Homo sapiens: one gene and its partners. The protein of the gene in region 1 purifies or fractionates together with the protein of each later gene. This does not show direct contact. Each region holds a gene or a part of one and is shown in the gene's direction. Other genes may lie near its edges.

Region 1 (4,523 bases):
GAGCTGTGGCTGGGGCTGTCATGTTGCCCGCCCCATTGTGAATGGCTTCAAAACTCCCTGAATAAAGATAAGAGAGGATTGTGTACGTTTTCAACACAAATGGTGGAAAGTAATAAAATAAACATCAAAGGTGAGCTCCCACCTACTAGCGGCTCCGTCGCTTTTTGTGCAACAAAGGCAGGAAAAAGGAGGAAACTCGGCGTGGCAGGGCAGCGGGCTGGAAGTGCACCTTCCCGGGGCCGAGGCGCCCGCTCCCTGGACTAATGACGCCGCGTGGGGATCACGCCCCGGGCGCCCTGGGGTGAGGAACGGTCCCCCCTTTCGAGATTGTCCGACACTGGTGCCAGTGAGGTCACAGCAAAAGTCCCAAAGGAATATTGGAAAGAAATGGCCGTGAACCGGTTTGTTCTTGCCCCCGCCCCCGGGAACACGCCCTCTCCGTCGTTCCTGTTGACTGTCAGATCCCGGGAACCAAGCGGCGGAGCTCGGCGGCATCTGAGGCTTCCGCAGGGACACAAGTGCAGGCACAGCCCAGCACCCTGCGCCAGACACAGCCGCCCCAGGGGAAGAGGAGGACGCTGCTGTCCTCCCGCAGGAGTCACCAGCCAGGTAAAGAAAAAGGTAAAGTAAGACAAAGAAAAGTGAAAGTCGGAGCCCATTTAGTGAGCAAGAGTAAAGGTCATCCAAAAAGGCGCATACAATTTCAAGCCCAGGAGTGCATTCATTAAAACAAGAGGAAAAGACAAGATGGTCCTTGAAAGGAGCTCATAGGAAGGGGCACAGCACAAGGCTCCCGAAAGAGGTCACTGCAAGTGTCCTGCGCAATTTCTGTTCAGCACCTCTGCAGTGACGACAGGGGTTTGCTTTCGTAAGCAGCATCGTTTTCACTACTACAGAAGCACATACGCCGCGTGCAGCTTAGGCCCGAGCAAAGTCCCTGCTCCCCTAGACCCAGTCCCTTCAGGTGTCCCCCTAGGGGAACTGTGGCGTGTCCCCCCAACCAGGCGCACTCGCCTAAACTGCGTCCCCGAACTCCAGGGCGCAGGGAGCCCTCGCGGGCTGCCCGGGGCTGGGGCCCACACCTGAACGGAGGAGCCGGCTGGCGGAGCGGCCCCGCGCGCGCACACACGCACACTCACAGACACGCGCAAACCCACAGCGGCGCGCGCGCTCCCCATTGGCGGGAGGAGGAAGGCGGGGCCGGCCGACCCAAAACAAACAACCTGCGCCAGCGACTTTGCCGCCGCGCTGCAGTGTGGCCTCCGCCTGGTGCGCGCCCGTTGGGGAGCTGGGGAACTGGGGAGCCGCCACCACCTCGGCCACCTCGTTCCCCCACCCCTTGCCGTCCGCGCTCAGGCCCCGCCCCCGCGGAGCCGCCGCAGGGTTATATTGGGCCGGCCCGAAGGTGGAGGCGAGACGCAGCCGCGGCAGGCCAGCGGGGAGATGCTGCCCCGGAGGCTGGGAGCGGGAAGGCGGCTGCGGGCGCAGCGGCCTCGGGGACTCGCCTCCGCGGGTGCTCAAGGCTGAAGGCGCCGGACCTTCCCCCACGGTGGCACGCACATCATCCGGCACCATTTCCGTGCCCCGAAGACGCCCGCGCGGGACCTGGGACCGCCAGTGAAGAACCCCTCCTGGGCTCTTTAACGAGCAGCAGATGCGCATGCTGCTTCTCTCCGGCAGGAAAGCCTTCTAAGCCCGGCGTGCTCGGGCACCCGAGGGTGGAACCGCGGCCCCTGCACACACTCACCCCAAAGTCTCAACGTCGAACCGAAGGCGACACCCACCCAACTCCTCCCTCTCCGCCCCATAGTCCACCCAACACTTGCAGCCCCTCCAGAGAAAAAGCCCAGCGGAAGAGGACTCCGGAAAAGTGACTATCTCGGAAGACCAGGGTAGAGCTCCCGGGAGAAAAAGGCGAAGATCCCCGGCCCCGGATCGCCATCCCCTTCCCTGGCACCAGCTTCTCTAGGCTGCGCGAAGGAAGAGGGTACGACGCCGGGGAGGGACTGGGTGCGCGGGCATGAAGTTGGAGGTGTTCGTCCCTCGCGCGGCCCACGGGGACAAGCAGGGCAGTGACCTGGAGGGCGCGGGCGGCAGCGACGCGCCGTCCCCGCTGTCGGCGGCGGGAGACGACTCCCTGGGCTCAGATGGGGACTGCGCGGCCAACAGCCCGGCCGCGGGCGGCGGCGCCAGAGATACGCAGGGCGACGGCGAACAGAGTGCGGGAGGCGGGCCGGGCGCGGAGGAGGCGATCCCGGCAGCAGCTGCTGCAGCGGTGGTGGCGGAGGGCGCGGAGGCCGGGGCGGCGGGGCCAGGCGCGGGCGGCGCGGGGAGCGGCGAGGGTGCACGCAGCAAGCCATATACGCGGCGGCCCAAGCCCCCCTACTCGTACATCGCGCTCATCGCCATGGCCATCCGCGACTCGGCGGGCGGGCGCTTGACGCTGGCGGAGATCAACGAGTACCTCATGGGCAAGTTCCCCTTTTTCCGCGGCAGCTACACGGGCTGGCGCAACTCCGTGCGCCACAACCTTTCGCTCAACGACTGCTTCGTCAAGGTGCTGCGCGACCCCTCGCGGCCCTGGGGCAAGGACAACTACTGGATGCTCAACCCCAACAGCGAGTACACCTTCGCCGACGGGGTCTTCCGCCGCCGCCGCAAGCGCCTCAGCCACCGCGCGCCGGTCCCCGCGCCCGGGCTGCGGCCCGAGGAGGCCCCGGGCCTCCCCGCCGCCCCGCCGCCCGCGCCCGCCGCCCCGGCCTCGCCCCGCATGCGCTCGCCCGCCCGCCAGGAGGAGCGCGCCAGCCCCGCGGGCAAGTTCTCCAGCTCCTTCGCCATCGACAGCATCCTGCGCAAGCCCTTCCGCAGCCGCCGCCTCAGGGACACGGCCCCCGGGACGACGCTTCAGTGGGGCGCCGCGCCCTGCCCGCCGCTGCCCGCGTTCCCCGCGCTCCTCCCCGCGGCGCCCTGCAGGGCCCTGCTGCCGCTCTGCGCGTACGGCGCGGGCGAGCCGGCGCGGCTGGGCGCGCGCGAGGCCGAGGTGCCACCGACCGCGCCGCCCCTCCTGCTTGCACCTCTCCCGGCGGCGGCCCCCGCCAAGCCACTCCGAGGCCCGGCGGCCGGCGGCGCGCACCTGTACTGCCCCCTGCGGCTGCCCGCAGCCCTGCAGGCGGCCTCAGTCCGCCGCCCTGGCCCGCACCTGCCGTACCCGGTGGAGACGCTCCTAGCCTGAGTAGCGCCGCGGGGCCCGGGAACGCCGAGTGCGCGCCGTCGGGGAGGCGGGAACGCGGGCCCGCGCGCGGACTTTGCACTTTGAATCCAGAGGAAGATGAATTTTTAAAATCTCCATCAAACGTGCCTTAAAGCTAAAGCATTTTGACAGGAGTATTTAAACTTAGTCCAGGATATTTTCCTTTGTGTTTTATAACTTTACAGAGGACCAAAGCAATTCTTGTTTTAGTTTCTTTGCGAAGCCTGCTCCTCCTTCCCTTCATAAGGACTTTTTTTGTCTTTCTTTAACGCCCAGGCTTCGTCTTATTTCTACTGTTTTTGTCGCAACTTCCATTGATTTATGTCCCTTCCCTCCCCCCTAAGTACATCAGGGAACCTTTCCACACTATAAATGATATGACTACTGTTTGGGGTTTCTGGGCCCCCATCCGTGTACGTATGTGGCATTTCCAGGTATGACTGAGTGTGAGAGACATGTCAGAGGCTCTTCAGTGATTTCTTGCTATTGACCGATGCTTCACTGTGCCAAAAGAGAAAAAAAATGTTGGGTTTTGTAATTAAATTATTTATATATTTTTGAAACCCGAATTGAAAATGTTGCAGGCAACGGGCTACAGCTTTATTAGTGGTTCTCTAACTGTGGTCTCCTTGGGCCAAGCAATTTCTTTAAAGGAAAAGTTGATTATGTATGTGGGGTGCCAGGACCACTGCCTTGAAAGCAAGTGTGATTTTTATTTTTAATATTATTTTATTTGTGTCTGTGTACATATTCATGTATAAATTTTATGAAACCCAAGCATAGTGCTTATTTTTTAATAAAACAACTGACTTAACACATTGTGATGATGGGTTGGAAGTGGAGAGATTTTTATGTCTGTCCCCCCTCCCAAAAAAATGGGCTCAGGTTTTGGTCTCAAGAAACTTCCTCTGGAGATAAAAATATTTTCCTGAATAATTCGATAAAGGTATTATAGAATGGGCTTGCAGATTTCCGTATGAGATGCATTGCTAGACAGATTTCCAGATAGGACTTCCATTCATGGGCTTTTTAAAAGTTGAAAACCAATTACTCCTCTAATTAGTCACCTAAGTGCTTCCAGAACAAATGAGAGGGAAGTGTCCCTCTCTCCCCCAAGAATCCTTAGCAGGCAAGTTGAGTTCTTAACAAGCCTAGAGTCAAACAGATATTTTCAGGTAAATTGGTTTCGATTTGGGGCTCAAAAAGTTGGAGCCCCAATTTTTTTGACAACTTTTTTGTCATAAGACTATCTTAAAATATCAAAGGTGTCTTC
Region 2 (4,665 bases), on another chromosome or scaffold:
GACCTGGTGTTCATTTCTTTTAAAGTACCGAAAGCTGATTGCTTCTGTAAAGGTAAAACTCCTGTGACATGTTAGAAAGAAAAAAAAAATTCCTTTGAGAGATATGTTTGTAAGAATGAAATAGGTACTACTAGAATTTTCATGTTATTCTCTGCAAGGCACTCAACACCACATGAAAAGAAGATTATTAACAGTCAGTAGAAATACTAATAACTGAAGAAAATATTTGGTTGTTTTAAATGCTTTTAAAGCAAACCAACAACAAAAGATTCTGTTTGTAAATGGGAGAGAATCTGCATGAGGTATAGACAACCAGGGCCTCCAAATTTGTAGCTGTGTTTCTGACATTCTCCAGGGAAGACGGTTACAGAAAGACTTGACCCCCTGGCCCCGCAGAGCTCTTCAGAGAAATTAATGCATCCAGAAAAGACAGAGCATCAGATCTCACTCCTTCGTCTGGAAGACGTCAGTTCATCCTAGTTCTAGCGCATACCGGTGTTTTGGAAACAGATTAGCTATATTCATACATAAGGATACTCTTCCGCAACACTATCTGTAGTGAGGCCAAGACCAGTGGTTGCGGGAATCTTCGCAAACAGGCAAGAGACAATTTTTAGGGGCGATGGAAACTGTCATTTTGACTGGGGAGGTCATTACACCTATACATGCATTTGCTAAAAGTCATCAAACTCTTCCACTGACGTGGGTGTAACCATTGTTTGTAAATTATACCTCAACAGGATTCGATTAATTTATTTATTGAGACAGTCTCGCTCTGTGGAGTGCAGTGGTGCAATCTTGGCCCACTGCAACCTCCGACTCCCGGGTTCCAGCGATTCTTCTGTCTCAGCTTTCCTAGTAGCTGGGATTACAGGCGCCCGCCACCACGTCCGGCTAATTCTTTTATTTTTAGTAGAGACGGGGTTTCGCTATGTTGGCCAGGCTGGTCCCGAACTCCTGACCTCAGGTGATCAGCTCGCCTGAGCTTCCCAAAGTGCTCGGATTACAGGCCGCGCCTGACTATGATTCGTTTTGAAAGAAAAAAATATATGCCATTTACCCCTCGGGAATGGAAACATAGAGGAGTGACAAGATCTCCCCCAAGCTCTGGGGCGGTGGAGTCCAGCATTTATAGATCGGTTTGCACTAGGAGCAGAAGCTCCTTTCACGACAATCTCGGCCTCTTCCCACTTTGTAGAGTGAGTAACAAGCTCGGAGAGATGAAATAATTTGGTGGCGTTAACCCGGCCGACAGGCGCCAGCGCCAGGATTTGAACCCAAACCACGTGACTTCACAACCCATAGCTTTCAACACTACGCGGTGCTGCTGGCACCTAGTAAAGGCTGGATCACTACTGAATGAATGATTCTGGCTACGGATCCTTAAAGCCCACAGAAGGCCCATCCAGAGACCGAAAGCTTCAGACACAAGCCGCAGAGCAGACCGCTAAACCGGAGCTACAGAGGCGAAGCTCAGACTTGAGCCTGAGTCCGGCGGGCTGAGGGGCGGGCTTTCGTCTCGGGAGGCGGAGCTGTCTCGTCGCATTCCCGGCAAGCTTGAACCTCTTCACTTGCCGTAGCGCCTGCAGCAGGAAGTTGCTCTACAGCATGCCTTAGGTTTCCGGGTGAGGGTTGGGCTCCTTGGTACCATGTGGGAAGCGCTGTGAAGAGTTGTTGCCTTCCAAGATATACCCAAATTCCCAGTTCCAGGTAAGCGGCACAGAGCCGCTTGATGTGGCTGCGGATGGGGGCGGCATATCGAGGGAGGGTAAGAGTTTTCCGGATATCTGCGGAATCAGGGTTGAAGGAAAGCCTTGGCGCGGTCGCCGCTACTGTAATTAGTTGTTAACGCTGCTGCCATCGTCTTTGCATCTCCGGGGTCCACAAATCTCAGGACACCCGCGTTGTGTGTCCATGACGGTGCTGAGTGCAGAAGAGAATTGTTTGTTTACGAGGCGCCTTATAATTTCGTAGAAACTTATCAAAGTGCTTACGTTTTTTTAGCCCGTGTCATTAAAACTCCGCTGGCGTGAAAGATGACGTCCTTAGCCCAGCAGCTGCAACGACTCGCCCTCCCTCAAAGTGATGCCAGCCTCTTATCTAGAGATGAAGTTGCTTCTTTGTTATTTGACCCTAAGGAAGCGGCCACAATCGACAGGGACACCGCCTTCGCCATTGGTGAGCCATCTTTTAACTTAGAAAAGCTCTTGGAAGCGTTTGTTTTCTGGATGTTACTGTTTTTTTTTTTTCCCCTTGTTTTCTCTTCTGTCCCGTCCTCTTCCTTAGCAGTTTCTAGCATGTTGATGTATATTTTTAAGGGAAAGAGAACATAACAGTCAGGTGCTTGGTGCTTGAAATGTTTATGAGTAGAGGTATCTGGATTTCACAGATGAAGAAACAAAATTAGAGAGGTCAACTAATATGTCAAAGAGAAGAACAGCTAAAAGGGGGATGGAGGCAGTGACTGGGGTGACGGAGAAGTCCTCTCAGAGGACTGGCCTAGTTATTGTAGGGGATATCCAAAAAAAAAAAAAAAAAAGTGTTCCCTGCCACGAAGTACTTTCTGTTCTAGTAGATGAGATAGGATTTACTCTAAAAGTTGAAAACTAGAAATCAGTGTTTGGGACTGTATTATAAATTATATGTACTTAAAGAATTCAGAAACTTCTTAGGGGTAAGTAAAACTGTAAAAGAGGGGTGGGATGAATTTGCTTACGAAGAATTGTTAAATAAACTGGCCTTTTTTGAAATTTAGGATGTACTGGCCTGGAAGAGTTGCTTGGAATTGATCCTTCCTTTGAGCAGTTTGAAGCACCGTTGTTCAGTCAGCTAGCAAAAACCTTGGAGCGAAGTGTTCAGACCAAAGCAGTAAACAAACAGTTGGATGAAAACATTTCATTATTCCTTATTCACTTGTCGCCTTACTTCCTGCTTAAGCCAGCACAGAAGTGTCTGGAGTGGTTGATTCACAGGTAGCTAATAGAATTACAGAAATAACTATGGGTTAATCACTTTGGTCTTGTAAAAAATTAAGTAGTTGAGAACTTATCAAATTAAAGCTGAAAAATTAGGTATATTAAGAGATTGATACAATGTCCATTGTGTGAGATAAGCATGCTCTTCTGCCTTTAAATTCTTTTTTGTTGATAGTGAAAAGTAGAACTACTGGTGATTTTGAGTAAATGGTCTAACCTCATTAGTTTTTTTTTGAGATAGAGTCTTGCTGGGCACTCAGGCTGGAGTGCAATATTGAAATCTTGGCTCACTGCAACCTCTGCCTCCCAGGTTCAAGTGATTCTCCCACCTCAGCCTCCCAAGTAGCTGGGATTACAGGCACCTGCCATAATGCCTGGATGAGTTTTGTGTTTTTGTAGAGATGGAGTTTCACCGTGTTAGCCAGGCTGGTCTTTAACCCCTGACCTCAGGTGATCCACCCGCCTCGGCCTCCCAAAATACTGGGATTACAGGTGTGAGCCACCTCGCCCAGCCTAACCTCGTTAGTTCTGAAGAGCCCATGCTACTTTGCCATTACAGCTTGTTCCTGCACACTTGAGGCAGTGAGTACTAAGCTGCTTTCTTGGCAAAATAACAAGATGGTTGGGGAAGCAGGCAATGTTATCCTCTGAAATACCATTGCTTGAGAAAAACAATGATAGCTAATGTGTTTTTGAGCATTTATACACTAGGCCCTGGTAAGCACTTTATCTGCATTATCTCATTTAATTCTCACAGCATTCCTCTGGTGAGATTATTTGTATTATCCTTGTTTTACAGTTGAGAAAACTGAGGCTTAGAGGGATTAAGTTTCTTGAGTCACACAGCTAGTAAGTGGCAGAGCTAGGATACAGCTGAAGTTTATTTCCAAGGTCTGATCTTTTATCTGCTTTGGGAATTGTCTCAGTAAGCTTAGTTTATTTTCTCACATATTGGTGTCACATCACAGCATACACATTTTTGTTTTATTTATTCTCCCAATATGTATGTCTTTTTTTTTTGAGACAGTCTCGCACTGTCGCCCAGGCTGGAGTGCAGTGGCACGATCTCATCTCACTGCAACCTCCACCTCCCAGGTTCAAGCAATTCTCCTGCCTCAGCCTCCCAAGTAGCTGGGATTACAGGCACATACCACTACGCCCAGTTAATTTTTTGTATTTTTTTTTTTTTAGTAAAGATGGGGTTTCATCACGTTGGCCAGGCTGGTCTCAAACTCCTGACCTCGTGATCCACTCGTCTTAGCCTCCCAAAGTGCTGGTGTGAGCCACCACAGCCACTGCACACGGCTGTCTTTTTATTTTTATTTTATTGAGTGTCAGGATTTCACTCACCCAGGCTGGAGTGCAGTGGTGTGATCGTGGCCCACTCGATCTCCAGGGCTCAAATGATCCTCCGATCTCAGCCACCCAAGTAGCTGGGATTACAGGCATGCACCACCATGCCCACCTAGTTTTTTTTTTGTTTGTTTGTTTTTGTTTTTGTTTTTCCATTTTTTGTAGAGACAGTGTCTCACTTTGTTGCCCAGGCTGGTCTGGAACTCCTGGCCTCAAGCGATCCTCCTGCCGAGTCGGCCTCCCAAAGTGCTGGGGTTACAGGCATGAGCCACCACATCCAGTCCAACTTACATGTTTTAAAAGTAGATTTCTATTCCATTAATTGGAGACATGGCTT
Region 3 (3,908 bases), on another chromosome or scaffold:
GAGATATTTGATTAATTCTGAGTTAATTCTTATATGTATTAACAATCTAGTTTCTTTTTTTGTTTGTGTGTTTGCTTCTTGTGGATATCCAGGAGTTTTTTTGTTTTGCTTTTGTGTTTTTGAGATGGAGTCTCACTCTGTAGCCCAGCCTGGAGTGAGGTGGCGCAATGTCAGCTCACTGCAACCTCTGCCTCCTAGGTTCAAGCAGTTCTCCAGCCTCAGCCTCCCGAGTAGCTGAGACTACAGGCATGCACCACCATGCCCAACTAATTTTTTTGTGTTTTTAGAAGAGGCAGGGTTTTGCCATGTTAGCCAGGCTGGTCTCAAACTCCTGACCTCAAGTGATCCACCTGCCTCATCCCCCCATAGTGCTGGGATTACAGGCTTGACCCTCTGCACCCGGCTGAATATCCAGTTTTTCTAGCACCATTTGTTGAAGAGACTGTTCTTTCACTAAAGATGGTCTTGGCATCCTTTGTCAAAAATGAATTACCATATATGCAAGGGTTTTCTGAGTTCTCTATTCCATTAGTCTATATGTCTATCCTTGCCAGTACCAGCCACACTGTCTTGATTACTGTAGGTTTTATAGTAAGTTTCAAAATTGGGAAGTATGAGTCTTCTAACTTTGTCCTTTTCCAAGCTCTGGTTGGTGATGTTCCCGTAGGTTTCTCAGAGGCTGTGTTGATCAACATGAAAAACTTAATCAGCAAAAACATAAATTTTTTTTTTCATGCTAATAGCTAAATTTATTCAATTGTCTATAGTCAACAGGTGAAAAGAATGGAAAACTGTGGTCTCCAGATGAAGAGGTTTCCCCTGAAGTACTAGCAAAGGTAAATTTGTTTAGGCCTTGATAATCTTCATGTTTAAAAAAGGGACATTTTGTAGTTATCTTCCTCACCTTTAAAAAATTTAATAAACAGAGATGGGATCTTGCTGTGTTGCTCAGTTTGGTCTTGAACTCCTGGGCTCAGCTGATCCTCCCACTTCAGCCTCCCAAAGTGCTGGGATTATGAGCTTAAGCCATCGTGCCTAGCTGGGAGCCTTTTTTAATTAAACCTAATAGTTAATAAGCATTTGTTAAGGAGGTACTTTATTTTAAAATCCATTGCAAAAAATGGTTTATTGAAGACATTGTGGTTGTCATTGTTTATTACATGTCAGTGTCTTCTGCCTGCTAAAGCAATCTTAATGAGGCTGTTTTATAGAGAGACTGTTTATAGAATGACGGTGCTCAGAGGCATCTTAAATCCAGCCTCATCACCACTATCTACAAGCATATGAATATTAACTTGGCAAAGATAGGTAATTGTCAAGCTGGGCACTGTGGCAGATTTGGGATTTAAAATAAGATTGTATCATCTTCTTTGATAATCTGTTTCACTTTGTGTTGCTTCATCATCATCATATATTCTATCAATTCATTTTTCCTGGTTGTCAATAAATATAATAAATAATACTTTGATTTGTTTTTCACACCTATTATCCCAGCACTTTGGGAGGCAGAGCAGGAGGATCGCTTGAGCCCAAGAGTTCAAGACCAACCTGGGCAGCATAGTGAGCCATGTCTCTACAAAATATTAAAAATAATTTAGTTGGGCTAGGCATGGTGGCTCACGCCTATAATCCCAGCACTTTGGGAGGCTGAGGCAGGCAGATCACTTGGGGTCAGGAGTTCAAGACCAGTCTGGACAACATGGTGAAACCCCTTGTCTACTAAAAATACAAAAACTAGCTAGGCATGGTGTTGCACATCTGTAATCCCAGCTACTTCGGAGGCTGAGGCAGGACAGTCACTTGAACCTGGGAGGTAGAGGTTGCAGTGAGCCAAGGTCCCGCCACCGCCCTCCAGCTTGGGCAACAGAGTGAAACTCGGTCTCAAATAATAATAATGATAATTTGGCCGGGTGTGGTGGTGCATACCTATAGTTCCACCTACTCAGAAAGCTGAGGCAGGAGGATCGCTTGAGCCCAGGAGGTCAAGGCTACAGTGAGTTGTGATCATGCCAGTACACTCCAGCCTGGGTGACAGAGCAGATAGAGATGATTGTTACTAAATTTGTGACATTTAATAGATGTAAAGCTCAGTTGAAAAGTGGCAGATTTGGGATTTAAAATAAGATTGTATCATCTTCTTTGATAATCTTTCACTTTGTGTTGCTTTGTAGTCATCATATATTCTATCAGTTCATTTTTCCAGGTTGTCAATAAATATAATAAATAATACTTTGATTTTTTGGCTAGCTTTTTCACATATATTGGTAACAATCTTTTGACTAGACATTTCTAAGTAATTATGACTACCAATAATTACACAAAATCCCATTTTTTTGGTCACAATGTTAAATGAGACTGAATCAGACTTGATGGTTTCTTCAAAGTAGTTTTTCAATACCACAAAACTGAAACTCTCAAGTTATTTTCAGTCACCACAATCAGTACAGTTGTGGGGTGTGTGTGTGTGTGTGTGTGTGTGTGTGTGTGTGTGTGTGTTTTGGTTTTTTTATGAAACAGAGTTTTGCTCTGTCACCCAGGCTGGAGTGCAGTGGCACAATCTCAGCTCACTGCAACCTCTGCCTCCCGGGTTCAAGCAATTCTCATGCCTCAGCCTCCTGAGTAGCTGGGACTACAGGCGTGTGCCACCATGCCTGACTAATTTTTTTTTTTTTTTTTTTTTAGTAGAGACGGGGTTTTTTAGTATAGACACGGTTTCACCATGTTGGCTAGGCTGGTCTCAAACGCCTGACCTCAAGTGATCCACCTGCCTTGGCCTCCCAAAGTGCTGGGATTACAGGCGTGAGTCACCACCCCCGGCCTGTATAGTTTAAATTGTTGTTTTTAAAGTATATGTTTTCAAATAGTTTCAAAATCTTGCACAAACATCTAAGTATGAGAAGCCTAAATTCTGGAACCAGACTTTTAAGCAAGTTATCTATGATAATAATGTGTCTCAATTGCCTTATCTGTTGGAAAAAAAAAAATCTTCCTCATAAGAATTTTTTGGGAGATTAAATAAGTTAATACATTTACAGATCTAAGAAAAGTGCCTGGCACTGGTTAAGCACAGAGTAAATATTAGTTCGTATTGTTGCTGTTATTATCCCATAGACTTATTTAATAAAATGTCTGCTGATGGAGATGAGTAATCTCATTAATCTAATTAAATTAATTTTCCCTTTAATTGGAATTTTAAGTTGCTTTCTTTTTTTAGCATGTTAATATTTTATAGGTACAGGCAATTAAACTTCTGGTAAGGTGGCTGTTGGGTATGAAAAACAACCAGTCTAAATCTGCCAATTCAACCCTTCGGTTATTATCAGCGATGTTGGTTAGTGAGGGTGACCTGACAGAGCAAAAGAGGATCAGGTGAGATTTTTCTTTCTTTCCAGTTTTCTTAGTGCTGAAATTTTGGTGGAATTTACATAGGAATTATTTACCTAATGAATACTGAATGGTGTAATTACACCATGATCTTCAGGGTCAGATCTTATGTACTCATTTAGGGTTTGTCTGTCTGTCAGTATTGTTATTTTAATAGTGCCAATATATTTTTCTTCATTCCTAAAGAAGAGGAACTTTTTCCAGTAAATACATAATCATAATCACTATATTGTACTATTACAGTTAGCATCAACATTTGGTTCAATTAAACAAGTATTTGTTAAACTTCTACTTCATAAAACACTGTGAAAAGCATTGCAGCAAAAATAAGTAGGAAAAGTCCCTGCCTTCAAAGAGCATCCCTGTATTAAAGCGATTAAATAAGTGGAGTGACTTGAGTCCCATGAAAGTAATAAAAATTTAAGTGGCAGCCAGGCGCGGTGGCCTATGCCTGTAATCCCAGCATTTTGGGAGGCCGAGACGGGCAGATCACGAGGTCAGGAGTTCAAGACCAGCCTGGCCAA
Region 4 (3,908 bases), about 86 Mb from region 1:
GTCGCGGGCGCCTGTAGTCCCAGCTACTCGGGAGGCTGAGGCAGGAGAATCACTTGGACCTGGGAGGCGGAGGTTGCAGTAAGCTGAGATCTCACCACTTCACTCCAGCCTGGGCAACAGAGCGAGACCCTGTCTCAAATAATAGTAATAGTAATAATAGTGTCTCCTTGCTTTCTTTTTTTGTTGGCATTTTAATTCTATAACCTTGTCTGCCACTTTACCGTACGATGACTTCAATGTATTCCAAGGCTTTTGATAAAATTAAAAATCAATAGTTGCTAAAAACTCTGAGTTAACTATGATTAGGAGAGAAGTTCCTTAACATGAAGTGAATTTATATTCCAAACTATCAGTTAACATTAAAACTTGGTGGTAGATTATTAGCAGCAGAAATTTAACGTGAACACTCCAGTTGTTACAATAAAATACGTAGCAGTAAACAACAAGAAATATGAGGGAAAGTAGAAAACTATAAGGAATCTAAAATATTTGATTAAAAAAAGAGACCTGTGATATTGGGGTTGGGGATTTTTTAACATATTAAAGATGGGATTTTTCCCCAAATCAGTCTATGGATTTGATTTTATCTAGTCAAATACCAGTACAACTAGTTTTGAGAAGTGACAGGATTACTGTAAAATTAATTTGAAGAAGTGGCTTAAATTTTTTTGAAAGAGAATAACAATGTTTGGGGGCAGTGGGAGGAAGACCTAAATGTATTTGATAAAATGTACAACATACAAAGCCATAATAATTAAAACAGTTCAAGACTGGTAGGAGAATAGGGTTGGATTCAGTAGAACAAAATAAAAAGTTCAAACATAGTTCAAAGTATATATAAGTATTTAGACTATAAGGGCATGTCAAATCAGCGGGAGAAGGATGGATTGTACAATAAAGGAGGGTTTTTCAAACCAAATGTCATAATTTATGTGTGAGTTATGAAATCAATTTAGTGGACTATGAGTATAAAACAGGAAAGAAAACATTTGCTATTACATAATAAGGGTGAGTGTTGTTTTTTGTGACTTTAGTTTTTGTTCATGTGTATATGTGTTAGGTTATGATATAAAGTGTATTCCTTAATGTGGATTATAGTTTGAAAAGTTTGAAAGCCAGTGCAATAAATGGTATTTTCACAAATAGCTAACCATTTGGAGAAAGCATTCAAAAAGGATACAAAAATATACAGACAGAATAAATGAAAGACTGGACTAAACTATGTCAGTGGAAAAATGTAAGAATAGTAGTAGTAAGTCATTCAATAGAGGAGAGTTCAAAGCAAATGTATGAAACAAAGTATACAAGGTTGTAGAATAACAGCAAATAATGAAAACATTATTAAATGTATATAACTCAAAAAAGCCACTTAATAAAAACTGTTAGAAATTAAAAAGCAAATGATAGAAATACAGTAGAAAGATTGACATTTTTAATCTTAAATATGCCATAAATATGGTAAAAATAAAAGATTATAAAAAATGAAATACAGAGGATATTGAATGTTACCTGTCCCCAAATATATGTTTTTGATGAATGTAAAAAAAATTAAGGCCAGGCAAGGTGGCTCACACTTGTAATCCCAGTACTTTGGGAGGCCAAGGTGGGCAGATCACTTGAGGTCAGGAGTTTGAGACCAGCCTGGCCAACATGGTGAAACCCCATCTCTACTAAAAATACAAAATTGAGCGGGCGTGGTGGCACGTGCCTGTAGTCACAGCCACTCGGGAGGCTGAGGCAGGAGAGAATCACTTGAACCTGGGAGGCGGAGATCGCACTGAGCCAACATCATGCCACTGCACTCCAGCCTGGGTGACAGAGTGAGACTCCATATCAAAAAAAAAAAAAATTTCACTTCTGTCACTTACTGTGTAACTTTGCACGTAAGATCTATAACTTATACTATTATATGAAAAAAGAAACTGACTTATTTCTTTCTGTTTTTAGAGGACTATTTTAACAAAGGGAAAAATGAGCCTGAGGACAGTAAGCTTCGATTCGAAACTTATCAGTTGATATGGCAGCAGATGAAATCTGAAAATGAGGTGAATACTTTTTTTAATAATTTTCTGTAACACCCTAAGTCTCATTTTTGTTGCATCTCATCTTCCTTTCCACCAGTTTACAAGAGTATTGATGAAATATAGGAAGTATTGGTCAAGCATAGCCTGTATATCCTTAAAAAAACAACCATAATCCAGCCTGGGCAACTTGGTGAAACCCTGTCTCTACAAAAGCTACAAAAACTAGCTGGGCATGGTGGTGTGCACTTGTAATTCCAGCTACTCAGGAGGCTAAGTTGGGAGGATAACTTGAGCCTGGGAGGTGGAGGTTGCAGTGAGCCGAGATAGTACCACGGCACTCCAGCCTGGGCAGCAGAGAGAGATCTTGTCTCAAAAACAAAAACAAAAAAAACTCATATTTCTTGTGAGTGGAACAGATGTTTATGATAGCTGTTAAGGCAAGGAGCTTTCAAATGGTGACGCTCTTAAATTATCCTTTCAGGTATACAACTGTGAAATCAAGCTGTTTCTAAACTCCTTCACTTTCTCATCTTTATATTCCAGCTCTGAAACATTTCTTCACTATAGCAAATTGGTAGCTCTAGGGCCAGCATTTTAGGCTGACAACTTTTTTTTTTTTTTTGGCCAACACAGTGTTGTAGTTTTTGGTTTAATTGCCTTTCGGAAGGTTATATACTTTCCAGTTTATTACTGCCGCCTACCAGTCCTTACTGATTTACACCTAGTGGTAATGAGCAAAGGCTCATTCACGTATTCCATGTGATCCTTCAAGGTATTTGAATTTGTGGTTTCCAGTTTAGGCCGTCTTCATTTCTGAATCTGGATTGTTATATCCTCCTGACTGGCATCCCTGACACCATTGGCCAAATTAGAAAAGACCCTTTTCAAGGCAAATGCAGCCCAATTCCAGGCAACCCCTCCAGCCCTGTTGCCAGATTAACCCTTCTTAACCCTGATCCAATTATGTCTTTACTTCACATCCCTTCAGTGGTGCTCCCCATAGGACAAAATCCAAACCCTTTAATGTCATATATCATATATATATTATATATTATATATATATATACACGTTTATATATATATACACATATATAATATATATATATATATACATATATATATACAATTTTTTTTTTTGAGACAAGGTCTTGCTCTGTCACCCAGGCTGGCGTGTAGTGGCATGATCATAGCTTACTGCAGCCTTGACCTCCCAGACTCAAGTGACCCTCTCACCTCAGCTTCCCTAGAAGCTGGGACCACAGATGTGCACCACTACACCCAGCTAATTTGTCTTTTATCTAAAAAGATGAGGTCTCACTATGCCGACCAGGCTTGAGAGGGAATTTTTAATGGGGGAACCCAGAGCACTAATTACTAGAGATTTAAGGAAAAAACATTTTTTAATTAGGTTCATCTTTTGATCATTTTACATCATTGAATCCATGACAATTTTCTTTCCACAACCAGGAAAGACATCAGATTATTATTTCTAATAATAATAAGTTTTTGTGTGTTCTTTGTAGCGACTACAAGAGGAATTAAATAAAAACTTGTTTGACAATCTGATTGAATTTCTGCAAAAATCACATTCTGGATTCCAGAAGAATTCAAGAGACTTGGGCGGTCAAATAAAACTCAGAGAAATTCCAACTGCTGCTCTTGTTCTTGGTATATATGCGTATGTTTGTTCATGCATGCATCTCTGTGTATTTCGTTTTTAAATTTTTTTTTATTGTTGAGAATAGTGGAAGGACCTGTTTTGATGAGCCTATTTTGTCTCTCTTATTTGTACAATTAAACCAACTATAGTTTATATTACATATTTTCAAAAACCAATAAAAATTCCTTATCTTTACAGACGATCATATGTTTGTAAATTAAAAG
Region 5 (4,414 bases), on another chromosome or scaffold:
CCTCCCCAGTAGCTGGGACCACAGGCGCCCGCCACCACTCCCGGCTAATTTTTTTGTATTTTTAGTAGAGACGGGGTTTCACCATGTTGGCCAGGATGGTCTTGATCTCTTGACCTCATGATCCACCCGCCTCGGCCTCCCAAAGTGCTGGGATTACAGGCATGAGCCATCGCGCCTGGCCGTGTACTGCAAATATTTTTTATCCATTTGTTCTACTTTGTTGATGGCATCTCTTCTCGTACAGATGTTTATATTTCTTTCAATATTTTCTTTTATGATCTTTTGACTTTGATTCATGAGTATAAACATTTTCCCTCCTCCAATTATAGAGCTTCTCCCCATATCTTCTTCTGGTCTTTTACAGTATTGCGATTTGTCTGTTTTCAATCTATTTTTTTTTTTTTTTTGAGACGGAGCCTCTCCGTGTCGCCCAGGCTCAAGTGCAGTGGCGCGATCTCTGCTCACTGCAAGCTCCGCCTCCCAGGTTCAGGCCATTCTCCTGCCTCAGCCTCCCGAGTAGCTGGGACTACAGGTGCCCGCCACCACGCCCGGCTAATTTTTTTGTATTTTTAGTAGAGACAGGGTTTCACCATGTTAGCCAGGATGGTCTCGATCTCCTGACCTCATGATCCGCCCGCCTCAGCCTCCCAAAGTCCAGGGATTACAGGCGTGAGCCACCGCGCCCGGCCTTCAATCTATTTTGAGTTTAGTTTGAGACAGTAAGACTAAAAGCACTTAACATACATTATTCCACTTAATCCTCCAGGCCATTCTGTTAAGTGGGGGTTATTTTCTTCTTCATTGTACAAATGTGGAAATGGAGGCAGGTCGATTTAAATAAGGCCGCAGAGCTAGAAAGCTGCAGAGAAGGGGTTTGAACCCTGCACCTCTGGGGCCAGGGCAGTGCGGGTGGCCGTCCGCGAACCCTGCTAGCTGTGGTGCTCGGGGGCAAGCTTCCGAGGGCGCGGCGGGCGCGAGGAGCGCGTCCGAGACTCGGTGGAGCGTCACCGGCGCAACCCCGCGTGCCCAGCTCCAGGCCGTGTTCTCCCAGGTGCGGGCCGGCGGGACCCCGCCTTCGGCCCTGGCGGCGCGCGCTCGCCTAGCGGGCGGGCACTCGCGCGCAGCGTTTGTGTTGCCTGCGAGTTTCCCGAGTTCACACAGGCCCTGGGTTGGCATGGCAACCAGGCAACCTGTTCCAGAGCCGCCAGCCTTCTCCGCACATGCCGCTGCCACCGCCGGGGCCGGGGCCGGAGCCTATCCCAGGATGCACCGCGCCAACCCAGTCCCCAGTGGGCCGCCATGTTGTCGGAGTGAAAGGTAAGGGGGAGCGAGAGCGCCAGAGAGAGAAGATCGGGGGGCTGAAATCCATCTTCATCCTACCGCTCCGCCCGTGAGTATCCGCACCCCACCGGCCCCAAACGCTGCTCCGGACCCCTAACGAGCAGATTGTCCCTTCATATTGGTGTTTGAGAGTGGTTGTGGGGGTGAGAAGGGCTTTGGAAAAGCCGCCGGGGCCCTGGCTGAGGCTTCTCACTCGCTGTTCCTCGTACATGTTTTGGAGTCAGCAGCAAGGCCCCTATTGTTATCAAAGGAGGGAGGGGGTGGGGAGCGGGGTCGAAGCTAGGAAAATGCTGGGGGTTTAGGCCCGAGCCCAGGGCGTAGACGTGCCTCTACATTTTTGCCTGGCCCTGTTGGGAACCACCGAAGATTGATGTTGCCATTCGGGTTGCTTTTTTTGATGGGTTTGCGAAGCCCCGAGTCTTCTGTGTGGCCATGAAGTGTAATTCTGTGCCACCCCGATTTCTTCGACTTCTTGAGCTTCCGTGGCAGCGCCGGAGGAGGAGGAACAATAAATCGCTTTAGAAGCAGCCGTGGCCCTTGTCCACAGGCGAGATTCACCGTGGGGGAACTTTGCGAGCCTTAAATGTGGAGAAGTGGCGATCAGGAAGTTTCAGAATGCTTTTTAGGCTCCTGGGTTGCTGTGGCCTTTTGTTTCCGTGTGAGCTTGTGTTTTTGGTGGGTTCTTCCTTTTTGAGCCTCCCGGTGTTGGTGTCTCTCTTCACTCAAAGAGGGGTTCACCCCTTGCTAGTAGGAAAATCTAGATACACAATACTAGTTTTAGTCCTCACAAACATGCTTGGTAAACATAGATCATTTGTTTTACTTGTCAGTACCATTCCCACGTCAAGTGAGGAATACACTCCTGTAACTTTTCCCTCCTATAGCCCCCCCCCCCCCCCCCGCTGAAAAAACAAAGCCAGAAACCCACACACAGCATTACCAGAGAAGGCTTTATTCTCCCGTAACTTAGATTGTTACCTTTTATTGTTCAATTAAGAAAACACTGTTCTCAGCCCTCGATACCATTTTGCTCAATTCCTGTTATTACTGGGATTAATTAAGAATAAGATTTTATGAAGCTTTTCCTGGGTTCTGTTTTAAAGTCAGTTAACTTCTGAAACAATAGGCTTAGCATTTTGTTTCTTGAAAGCACCTAAAAACTTACTAAGACAGGCCCAACCCCAAGAAATGTGGCTTCCGATGCAGTTTTCGTAAGCAAAATAAACATTTTGACCCTTTGCTAATTTTAACTTTATAAAACACTGGGGGGCTGTTGATTCTTTATCTGGGCTCTTGGGAAACGCTCTCCGGATTCTGAACTTTGAGTTAGTGTTTTGCTTTAGCGACAATTGAATTCATTTTGTTCAAGGCCACAGCTTTTTGAAGTTGGAATTTGTTTAGTTTAGGTTTAAAATGAACTGTTTTAAGATAAATTTATGACCACAGAATGTTTGTTAAGTGTGGTAAAAATAAACACCTTTTAAACCACTAAGCATTTTAGTAAAAGGTGAGCCATGGAAATAAAGTAAACCGTGTTCCTTTGAATTCAACTCAATTAGTGATATTTTAAAAAACTTTGTAAACATTTGAAAGCTGTGAAAGAGTAGCTGGACTGAGCACTTCTAGTTGCTTAAAGTACTTATAAGGTGTCATTTGTAAAAAAATCACATTTTAAATGCTACACGTATTAGTGAGCTTTTCTGATATTTAGGATACTGAGTTTTTAATTTTTGTGCCGTATTTGCCAAAATACCACAAAACTACCCAAGATAACATGTTAATTGCTTAGGTATTTGCTCACTTTGAAACTGTTCTGCCAGGTTTTCTCTGGTTTGAGAAACTGCCTTGCCTCTTTAGGTAAAGCAGGAAGTCTTAGGGCATACAGATAGCTTTACAAAAGCCAATTGTTTCGTTTGAACATTTTTATAGGAGTCTTTTCTTTCCCCCATTCCTTTTAGAATGAAGGTGTGTTTAGTGTGCGTCAGTGATAAACTCCTCTTTTATGTGGATATTCTTTGTTAGATAACTTTTTTCTTTTAAAAATTTTTATTTGTATAATTTGTGAGGTACAAGTGTAATTTGTACATGCGTGTATTGCGTAGTGGTGAAGCCAGGGCTTTTTGTGTGTCCATCACTGGAATAACGTACATTGTCCTCCTTAGGTAATCTCTCATTATCCTTCTCTCAGCCTCCTAGATAACTATTTTGAGAAGGCTTTTATTTCAGAAAAGATTGCATTTGCTGTTTTAGGAATTCTGTTAGGGACTGGAGTTGCCTTAACTAGGGGTAACTAAATTCTAAGAGTCTTAAGCACGATGACTTTAAATTTACCAAAAACTTTTATATTTATCTCATTTTCATTAAGAAAAACCCAAAACATTGAGAGTCATAGAGGAAGGATTTCTTTCATTTTCTAGATGAGGAAACAGGTAGTTTTGTTTAGTGAAAGAACTTGGGTTTTGGAACTCTTGGCCTGCTCTAGAACAAAGATTGTTAGGTCGAGATTTCCTTTTAGAACAGAATGGGACTGTCTAGTATTAGTACTAAGAGAGTAATGAATTCTTTAAAAAACCAAGCAGGGAGGCATTAGGCTGGTTTGCACTTTTGAAAGACCGATGGTGAAACCGGGCTATGACTTTTTGGTTTTGGTACTTGAGCAGGGACTAGTGTCTAGGTTAGACTACTCCAGTACCCTGCTAAGGTTCTGATGGATTGGAATTCTTAACCTAGACTAGGCATTTCCAAATTAGGCTTTAAACAAATTACAAATTCCATTGTGTCTTCTTAGGCTGGCTTCAAAAACATGAATTTAGTTGTGAGAAGCAAATGCTACTTTATCAGAAGGTTTATTTATTCAACAGAGAGATAGTAGATTTGTTATTCATGTGTTTTTGAAGCATCACAGTGGGGGTTGGGAGAAGAGATAAAGCATTTGTAGCAGTAGACTGTTAGGCCGATGGCTTTGAAATTAGACCGTGGCTGTGGACAGGTGTGTCCTAATTGGTAACTGATTTATTTACTTTGTAGCTTTTTTTTTTTTTTTTTGAGATGGAGTCTCACTCTGTCGTCCAGG
Region 6 (2,918 bases), on another chromosome or scaffold:
CAGATGTCTTTGAGAAGTGTTAAACTAATTCACATGGTAGTGTAGGGCCAACATACAAGCTACCAGTCTAATGTGTATAGTAGACTTTGGGAAAAGCGATTTTTTTTCATGTATTCATTCTGAATAGTTGAAATGTATATTTGTACAGTCTTTTAGACCTATTCAAGTGATGCTCATGATCCTGTTACTGTGTGCCCATCATAGATTTCTTTTTTTAGTGTTGCCCTTGCTGTGTAATAAACGCTCTATCTAGTTTACCTAGCAAAAGCTCAAAACTGCGCTAGTATGGACTTTTTGGACAGACTTAGTTTTTGCACATAACCTTGTACAATCTTGCAACAGAGGCCAGCCACGTAAGATATATATCTGGACTCTCTTGTATTATAGGATTTTTCTTGTTCTGAATATCCTTGACATTACAGCTGTCAAAAACAAAAACTGGTATTTCAGATCTGTTTTCTGAAATCTTTTAAGCTAAAATCACATGCAAGAATTGACTTTGCAGCTACTAATTTTGACACCTTTTAGATCTGTATAAAAGTGTGTTGTGTTGAAGCAGCAAACCAATGAGTGCTGCATTTTGGATATTTAGTTTTATCTTTAGTTCAACACCATCATGGTGGATTCATTTATACCATCTAATATATGACACACTGTTGTAGTATGTATAATTTTGTGATCTTTATTTTCCCTTTGTATTCATTTTAAGCATCTAAATAAATTGCTGTATTGTGCTTAATGTAAATATTTGCTTTATTACACATGACAGTCCTGTGTGTCCATTATATCTTTTGCCATTTAATGCCATAACTCTTTCATCAGAGATGGCAGCCACAGTCACAGAGGAAACTTGTGGAAAACCCAAGATCTGTCATCTGCAAATAGAATGCTTTCTCTTGAGGCACCTGGTACAAAATCTGTTTTTCTTTTTTTTTTTTTTTTTTTTTTTTTTTTTTAACTGAAAAACAAACACCCTTGAGTTTTTCAGTTCACCTTTTGTTAAGGAGCAGAGCCTGCATATATATGTAAATGTCTCAATGATAAAAAAAAAAATGTAAACATGGATTGGCATTAATTTGCAAGCAGAATCTTAATAGCCTGATGGGTTTTTTGTTTGTTTTTTCTTCTAGATGAAGTTAAACGTTCGTTTTCACCTTACGATGGGAACAACTGTAGTGCAGGCGGCTCTGCCTCTATTTGCCACTCTTGGCCCTCTTGCTATTAAGGGAAAGGCTTTGAAGAGCACAGCACTGACAGGGCTGTAAAGATGGAAGGAGCTGGTATTTTTACCATGCGTAGATTCCCAAGAGAACTTGTACTAAAAAGCAGAAAGTTACAAGGAAGCAGAATTAGGCCAACATTTCCAGCAATTAAAACAATGATGGGAAACTCCAATCCATGAGGAGGCTGGTCAGTCACCTCAAGGATAGTGGCCTAAAGAAGTCTGAAGTGGCTGATGTCCATAACTTCTGAGTCTGTTTCCAAAAGAAAGACTCTTGTTAATGCTGTTACCAGAGAGTAGAGATTTGACCAGCCTCTCCCTAAAATGTAAGCTTCTCAACAACAGTACAGGAAGAAGTGCAAGAGTAGACTAGAACCTTTAAGGAATTTGGGGCTGGAACGGAGCTATGTTGCATCTGTTGTTATACAGGTAGATTATAAGTTCTACATGCACCAGCCAAAACTTAGGACAGGATGTCCCCAAATTAAGATACTACAGATTACCAAATCAGAAATAACCAGCTGGATTTAGGCCAGCTCACATTTATTTGGAAATTACCCTCCCTGATTAACAGGCTTCTGAGTTGTACGTGGAGGACTAATGAGACTTGTACAAGACACCACGGGGCTTGGGGTCCAGGTCCCAGTTGGATATCGGAACAGACACAGATAAGTGTGTTTCCTCATTAAGGTGGTGAGAGTGTGCCTTTTGGCATTCAGAAAAGGGTTTAGCCACCCTAAGAGTTGGAAATAAAGATTCCCAACTGGAAATGTTGCAGAATCCCTACAAGTGTCTCAATAAAAGCCATTTTAAAAGAATATTGTTGCTACTGTTTGCTTTTCAAATAATCTGGAGATCGTTGGCTATGGCAACGTGCTGCCACCTAATTAGAGAATGCCTGTAAATGTAGGCTGAACACTTCTAACATGAGAAAACCTAAGTATCCTACAGAGGTTTGGTGTGTTTTGTTTTTGTGGGTGTCGGGGGAAGGGGGTGGGGAGGCGTGTTTTTGGCCCTGCAGGTTTTCTCGTGGGAATGAGTTCACTCAGACAAGCTAGGACTGTGGCTTCTTTCCCTGTTCATCACATAGAGCATTTTCTCATCCTATCTTTGGTTCCTTGTCATTGTATAGGGAGAGGAGAATCTTTATCAAACAGCTTCATTCCCTCTTGCAATTCAAGCAGAAAGGGTATCTATGCCTCATATCGCTCTAGAGTTGTATGTCAGTTTGATCCCAATGCCTACTCCTTTGTAACATCCATTTCTGGCATGAACAAAATGAGTGCCAAATTTGAAAACTGCGATGTATTAAAGATGGGAGTTTCCCATCTGAGATGCTTCACGCTAGAAACAAACCTGCTTATTGCCAAATAAGTACTACCATACAGAAGTGTAGTTCCTTTACTACTTAGACCTCAGACTACTAGTACTGAGTCCTCGAGATGAGACTCAAGAATTATCACTAGGTGGTTCGTTTTTTTGTTTGTTTGTTTTTGAGATGGAGTCTTGCTCTGCTGCCCAGGCTGGAGTGCAGTGGCGCCATCTCAGCTCACTGCAACCTCCGCCTCCTGGGTTCAAGCCATTCTCCTGCCTCACCTTCCCAAGTACTGCCGGGACTACAGGCACGTGCCCCCATGCCTGGATAATTTTTTTTTTTTTTTTTTTTGTATTTTTAGTAGAGACAGGGTTTCACCGT
Region 7 (3,908 bases), on another chromosome or scaffold:
CTCGTGATCCACCTGCCTCGGTCTCCCAAAGTGCTGAGATTACAGCCGTGAACCACCACTCCCGGCCCCCCAACCCCCCCCTTTTTTTTTTAAATCACATACTAAATGTGTCATTTAGAACATATGCTTCAAGAGGTCAGGGTTTATGCTTCCTTTACTGCTATACTGCTGACCTGGAACAACATCCAGCACACAGTAGTAATCAATGTGTTTTTGAATGAATGAGTGGACACCTTACCCAGGATAATAATTCATGCTTATTGATAAAGGCAGACAAACCAGGGTTATAAGTTAGAACCCAGAGGAAGCCTAGGGGTGGGAGGATTCAGGGTATCACAACTGTATCTGAGAATGAGGAGGTTGTAGGAGGAGGCCTTTCGGATAGCACCCCCTAGTTCTGCCCCTCATATCTGCTTCCTTGGTCTCTCCTGATTACTTGCTGTTTCTTTTCTTTTTTTGGAGCATCTCACAGATACGTTTATTCATACCACAAAGTAAACACTATTCAGGTATGTAGTGATGTTCCACGTTCCTGTCTAATATAGCTGGCTTCAATTTATAGGCAGTACACATTGAGACATTTAATCTCACATGTACTCCAAGTAAAGCTGGAGTACCATGAGCAGGCGCAGGAGTTCTCAAAGCTTTACTTGTTTTAAAAATTTTCATTTATTGGCCAAGCGTGGTGGCTCATGCGTGTAATCCCAGCACTTTGGGAGGCTGAGGCGAGTGGATCACGAGGTCAGGAGATCGAGACCATCCTGGCTAACACACGGTGAAACCCTGTCTCTACTAAAAATACAAAAAAATTAGCTGGACATGGTGGTGGGTGCCTGTAATCCCAGCTACTCAGGAGGCTGAGGCAGGAGAATGACATGAACCTTGGAGGCGGAGCTTGCAGTGAGCCCAGATGGCGCCACTGTGCTCCAGCCTGGGCGACTGAGCGAGACTCCGTCTCAAAAAAAAAAAATTCTTTCATTTATTTAGTTACTTTTAGAGATAGAGCCTCCCGCTGTTGCCCAGGCTGGAGTGCAGTGGCAGTCATAGCTTACTGCAGCTTTGAACTCCTGGGCTCAAATGATCCTCCTGCCTCAGCCTCTCCAGTAGCTGGGACTGACTACAGGCACGTGCCACCACACCCAGCTAATTTTTATTTTTATTTTTATTTTTTTGAGACAGGGTTTTACTCTGTCACCCAGGCTAGAGTGCAGTGGTGAGATCATGGCTCACTGTAGCCTCTGTCTCCGGGGCTCAATCAATCCTCCCACCTCAGCCTCCCCAGTGGCTGGGATTACTGGTGCACACCACCATACCCTGCTAATTGTATTTATTTTTAGTAGAGATGGGATTTTGCCATGTTGCCCAGACTGGTCTTGAGCTGCTGGGCTCAAGCGATCTTCCCATCACAGCTTCCCAATGTGCTGGGATTACAGGTGTGAGCCACTGTACCTGGCCAGCTTTACTTCTTTTACCAGCACTCCTGATTTTATAAATAGTGAGGCTTATCAACCCCATTTCTACCCAAATCTTCTGGTAGACTTGAGTATAGTAGGGCTTCATAGGTAGCAGCCCTGTCCCTGTCCTATTATGATGGTAGCTGTTGTGATGTGGCGATCTCTGATCTAGAAACCCCTGAGGGGCCATTGTGGCCTGCCCAGTCTCCCGGCCACGGTTGAAACCAGACGTGCAGTGGGGCTGACCCCTGTGCCCCACCCCAGAGTCATGCCAGCGTGGGTGGTGGGGCATTCTCTGGGATGAATGATCTGGATCCCATAGCCATCTGTGTCCTGTTTGAGGAATGGGACCCTCAAACAGAGAACAGCCAAGATGCTCAAGCAGGTGTGTGCTTGGGCCAGACTCTGCAGCCTTTGGTTTGGGACTTGACTGCCATTCACTGAAGGGGCCCAGGAAATGGGCAGCTCACATGGTGTTGCTGGGTGTCCAGCTGCGGCAGTTTAGCAGAGGAGGACTTGTAATGAGATGGTAGCTTCTTATAGGCTAAGACATGATTTTTCTGTTCTTTTACTACCTCCTGCACCTTCTAGAACTGTTCCTTCTCTGATGCTGTTTTCCTTTCTTCCAGTGATTTATCTCTAGGGTCTCCATAGCAGGGGAGGTAGGGTCAGACTCCTGAGATGGCTGATGTCCTACCCTGCCCCCAACCAGGGGCCCCAGGAGACTCCTTTTTCTTACTGCAACTTTGGCCTCCTCAGTCTGCAGATCTCCAGGGGAGCCCACCAGCCTAGTCAACATGGCCTCGGAAGACATTGCCAAGCTGGCAGAGACACTTGCCAAGACTCAGGTGGCCGGGGGACAGCTGAGTTTCAAAGGCAAGAGCCTCAAACTCAACACTGCAGAAGATGGTGAGTTTCTGGAAGTTGTGCACTGGTGTGTCCAGGGGAGGAGAGGGAGTGTACTGAACTCTTACTGGTTGTCAGGCTCTTTCTGCTACATTGTCTCCATTATTTGTCCCAGCAGCTCTGTGAGGTATCATTGGGCCTATTCTAACAATGAGGCTCAGAGATCATTTGCCCAGGAGCAAGCTCCCCTGCACTTTCCATGTTTGTATTGGGCATCCCTTTGTGCCCTGCCCTTTCTTTCTCAGGAGGGGATGATAGGTAATGAGGGGCCACAGTTAGTGCCAGTCCCAAGATACAGCCTCTGACTCTGACTTAATATCCGGTGTTGTCCCCACCCTTGCCCTTAACCCCCATGATCCCAGGCAGGCCTGGGAATAGCTGCAGCTTTCCCCAGAGCTGAGGCTCTGGTGGAGCTGCATTAAAACAACCTGGGCCCTCTTGGGAGATGCTGGTTCATGCAACCAGATGTACCTGGGAGAGGGATGGCTGTCTGTGTGTATACAGGTATTGCAACCACAGAAAACTAGGAACCAGAGAGCAGACCCTGTCTTTTCATCCCTTGTCAAGGCTTGGCTGCCACTGACCAACCCTGAATCACCTGGCACCTGCAAGTGAAGGCACCTGCATCAAGTGAGGCCTCCTGGGATTCTGGCCCAACCAGGGGAACTGGTCTGGACATGCCTGGTTGTCATGTTGTGTAGGCAGCCTTGTTCTCCTCTCCAGGTCGGAGGCTGCTTGAGTCCTTGGGTAGCTGGGAGCGTGCTGATGCATGTTCCTAACATCTCCATAAGGTCTAACGTTTATAGACTTCCTCCCTGTGCATTTATCACTTTTTTTTTTTGAGATGGAGTCTCTGTCACCCAGGCTAGAGTGCAGTGGCACGATCTCAGCTCACTGCAAACCTCTGCCTCACGGGTTCGAGCAGTTCTCCTGCCTCAGCCTCCTGAGTAGCTGGGATTACAGGCGCCCACCACCACACCCGGCTAATTTTTGTATTTTTAGTAGAGATAGGGTTTTGCCATATTGGTCAGGATGCTCTCGAACTCCTCATCTCAGGTGATCTGCCCACCTTGGCCTCCCAAAGTGTTCGGATTACAGGCGTGAGCCACTGTGCCCGGCTTTTTTTTTTTTTTTTGAGATGAGTCTCACTCTGCCACCCAGGCTGGAGTGTAGTGGTGCGATGTTGGCTCATTGCAACTTCTGTCTCCCAGGTTCAAGCGATTCTCCTGCCTCAGCCTCCCAAATAGCTGGGACTGCAGGCTCACACCATCACGCCTGGCTAATTTTTTTTTTTGAGACATAGTCTTGCTCTGTTGCCCAGGCTGGAGTGTGGTGGTGCAATCTCAGCTCACTTTAACCTCTGCCTGGGTTCAGGCAATTCTCATGCCTCAGCCTCCTGGGTAGCTGGGACTACAGGTGTGTACAACCATGCCCAGCTAATTTTCTTTTCTTTTTGTTTTTTTTTTGAGATGGAGTCGTGCTCTGTCACCCAGGCTGGAGTGCAGTGGTGCAATCTCGGCTCACTGTAAGCTCTGCCTCCCTGGTTCA

The links.
Region 2: the proteins of FOXQ1 (region 1) and HEATR1 purify together in Homo sapiens (affinity purification with mass spectrometry; one large-scale study listed by BioGRID and IntAct). This does not show direct contact.
Region 3: the proteins of FOXQ1 (region 1) and PDS5A purify together in Homo sapiens (affinity purification with mass spectrometry; one large-scale study listed by BioGRID and IntAct). This does not show direct contact.
Region 4: the proteins of FOXQ1 (region 1) and ORC3 purify together in Homo sapiens (affinity purification with mass spectrometry; one large-scale study listed by BioGRID and IntAct). This does not show direct contact.
Region 5: the proteins of FOXQ1 (region 1) and PUM1 purify together in Homo sapiens (affinity purification with mass spectrometry; one large-scale study listed by BioGRID and IntAct). This does not show direct contact.
Region 6: the proteins of FOXQ1 (region 1) and ADNP purify together in Homo sapiens (affinity purification with mass spectrometry; one large-scale study listed by BioGRID and IntAct). This does not show direct contact.
Region 7: the proteins of FOXQ1 (region 1) and RANGAP1 purify together in Homo sapiens (affinity purification with mass spectrometry; one large-scale study listed by BioGRID and IntAct). This does not show direct contact.

Annotation. Positions count from the first base shown.
Region 1 is NC_000006.12:1,310,685-1,315,207, forward strand, and holds FOXQ1 (forkhead box protein Q1), read left to right. Parts: upstream 1-1,413; 5' UTR 1,414-2,020; coding exon 2,021-3,232; 3' UTR 3,233-4,074; downstream 4,075-4,523. UniProt on the Homo sapiens protein: Plays a role in hair follicle differentiation.
Region 2 is NC_000001.11:236,601,467-236,606,131, reverse strand, and holds the start of HEATR1 (HEAT repeat-containing protein 1), read left to right. Parts: upstream 1-1,615; 5' UTR 1,616-1,710; intron 1,711-2,004; 5' UTR 2,005-2,036; coding exon 2,037-2,178; intron 2,179-2,755; coding exon 2,756-2,972; intron 2,973-4,665. UniProt on the Homo sapiens protein: Ribosome biogenesis factor; required for recruitment of Myc to nucleoli. Involved in nucleolar processing of pre-18S ribosomal RNA. Required for optimal pre-ribosomal RNA transcription by RNA polymerase I.
Region 3 is NC_000004.12:39,866,322-39,870,229, reverse strand, and holds part of PDS5A (sister chromatid cohesion protein PDS5 homolog A), read left to right. Parts: intron 1-767; coding exon 768-836; intron 837-3,232; coding exon 3,233-3,369; intron 3,370-3,908. UniProt on the Homo sapiens protein: Probable regulator of sister chromatid cohesion in mitosis which may stabilize cohesin complex association with chromatin. May couple sister chromatid cohesion during mitosis to DNA replication.
Region 4 is NC_000006.12:87,599,837-87,603,744, forward strand, and holds part of ORC3 (origin recognition complex subunit 3), read left to right. Parts: intron 1-1,947; coding exon 1,948-2,045; intron 2,046-3,547; coding exon 3,548-3,692; intron 3,693-3,908. UniProt on the Homo sapiens protein: Component of the origin recognition complex (ORC) that binds origins of replication. DNA-binding is ATP-dependent. The specific DNA sequences that define origins of replication have not been identified yet.
Region 5 is NC_000001.11:31,062,592-31,067,005, reverse strand, and holds the start of PUM1 (pumilio homolog 1), read left to right. Parts: upstream 1-1,288; 5' UTR 1,289-1,390; intron 1,391-4,414. UniProt on the Homo sapiens protein: Sequence-specific RNA-binding protein that acts as a post-transcriptional repressor by binding the 3'-UTR of mRNA targets.
Region 6 is NC_000020.11:50,888,170-50,891,087, reverse strand, and holds the end of ADNP (activity-dependent neuroprotector homeobox protein), read left to right. Parts: 3' UTR 1-2,170; downstream 2,171-2,918.
Region 7 is NC_000022.11:41,279,388-41,283,295, reverse strand, and holds part of RANGAP1 (ran GTPase-activating protein 1), read left to right. Parts: exon of another isoform or gene 1-509; intron 510-1,652; exon of another isoform or gene 1,653-1,754; coding exon of another isoform or gene 1,755-1,839; intron 1,840-2,083; exon of another isoform or gene 2,084-2,213; coding exon of another isoform or gene 2,214-2,251; coding exon 2,252-2,363; intron 2,364-3,908. UniProt on the Homo sapiens protein: GTPase activator for RAN. Converts cytoplasmic GTP-bound RAN to GDP-bound RAN, which is essential for RAN-mediated nuclear import and export. Mediates dissociation of cargo from nuclear export complexes containing XPO1, RAN and RANBP2 after nuclear export.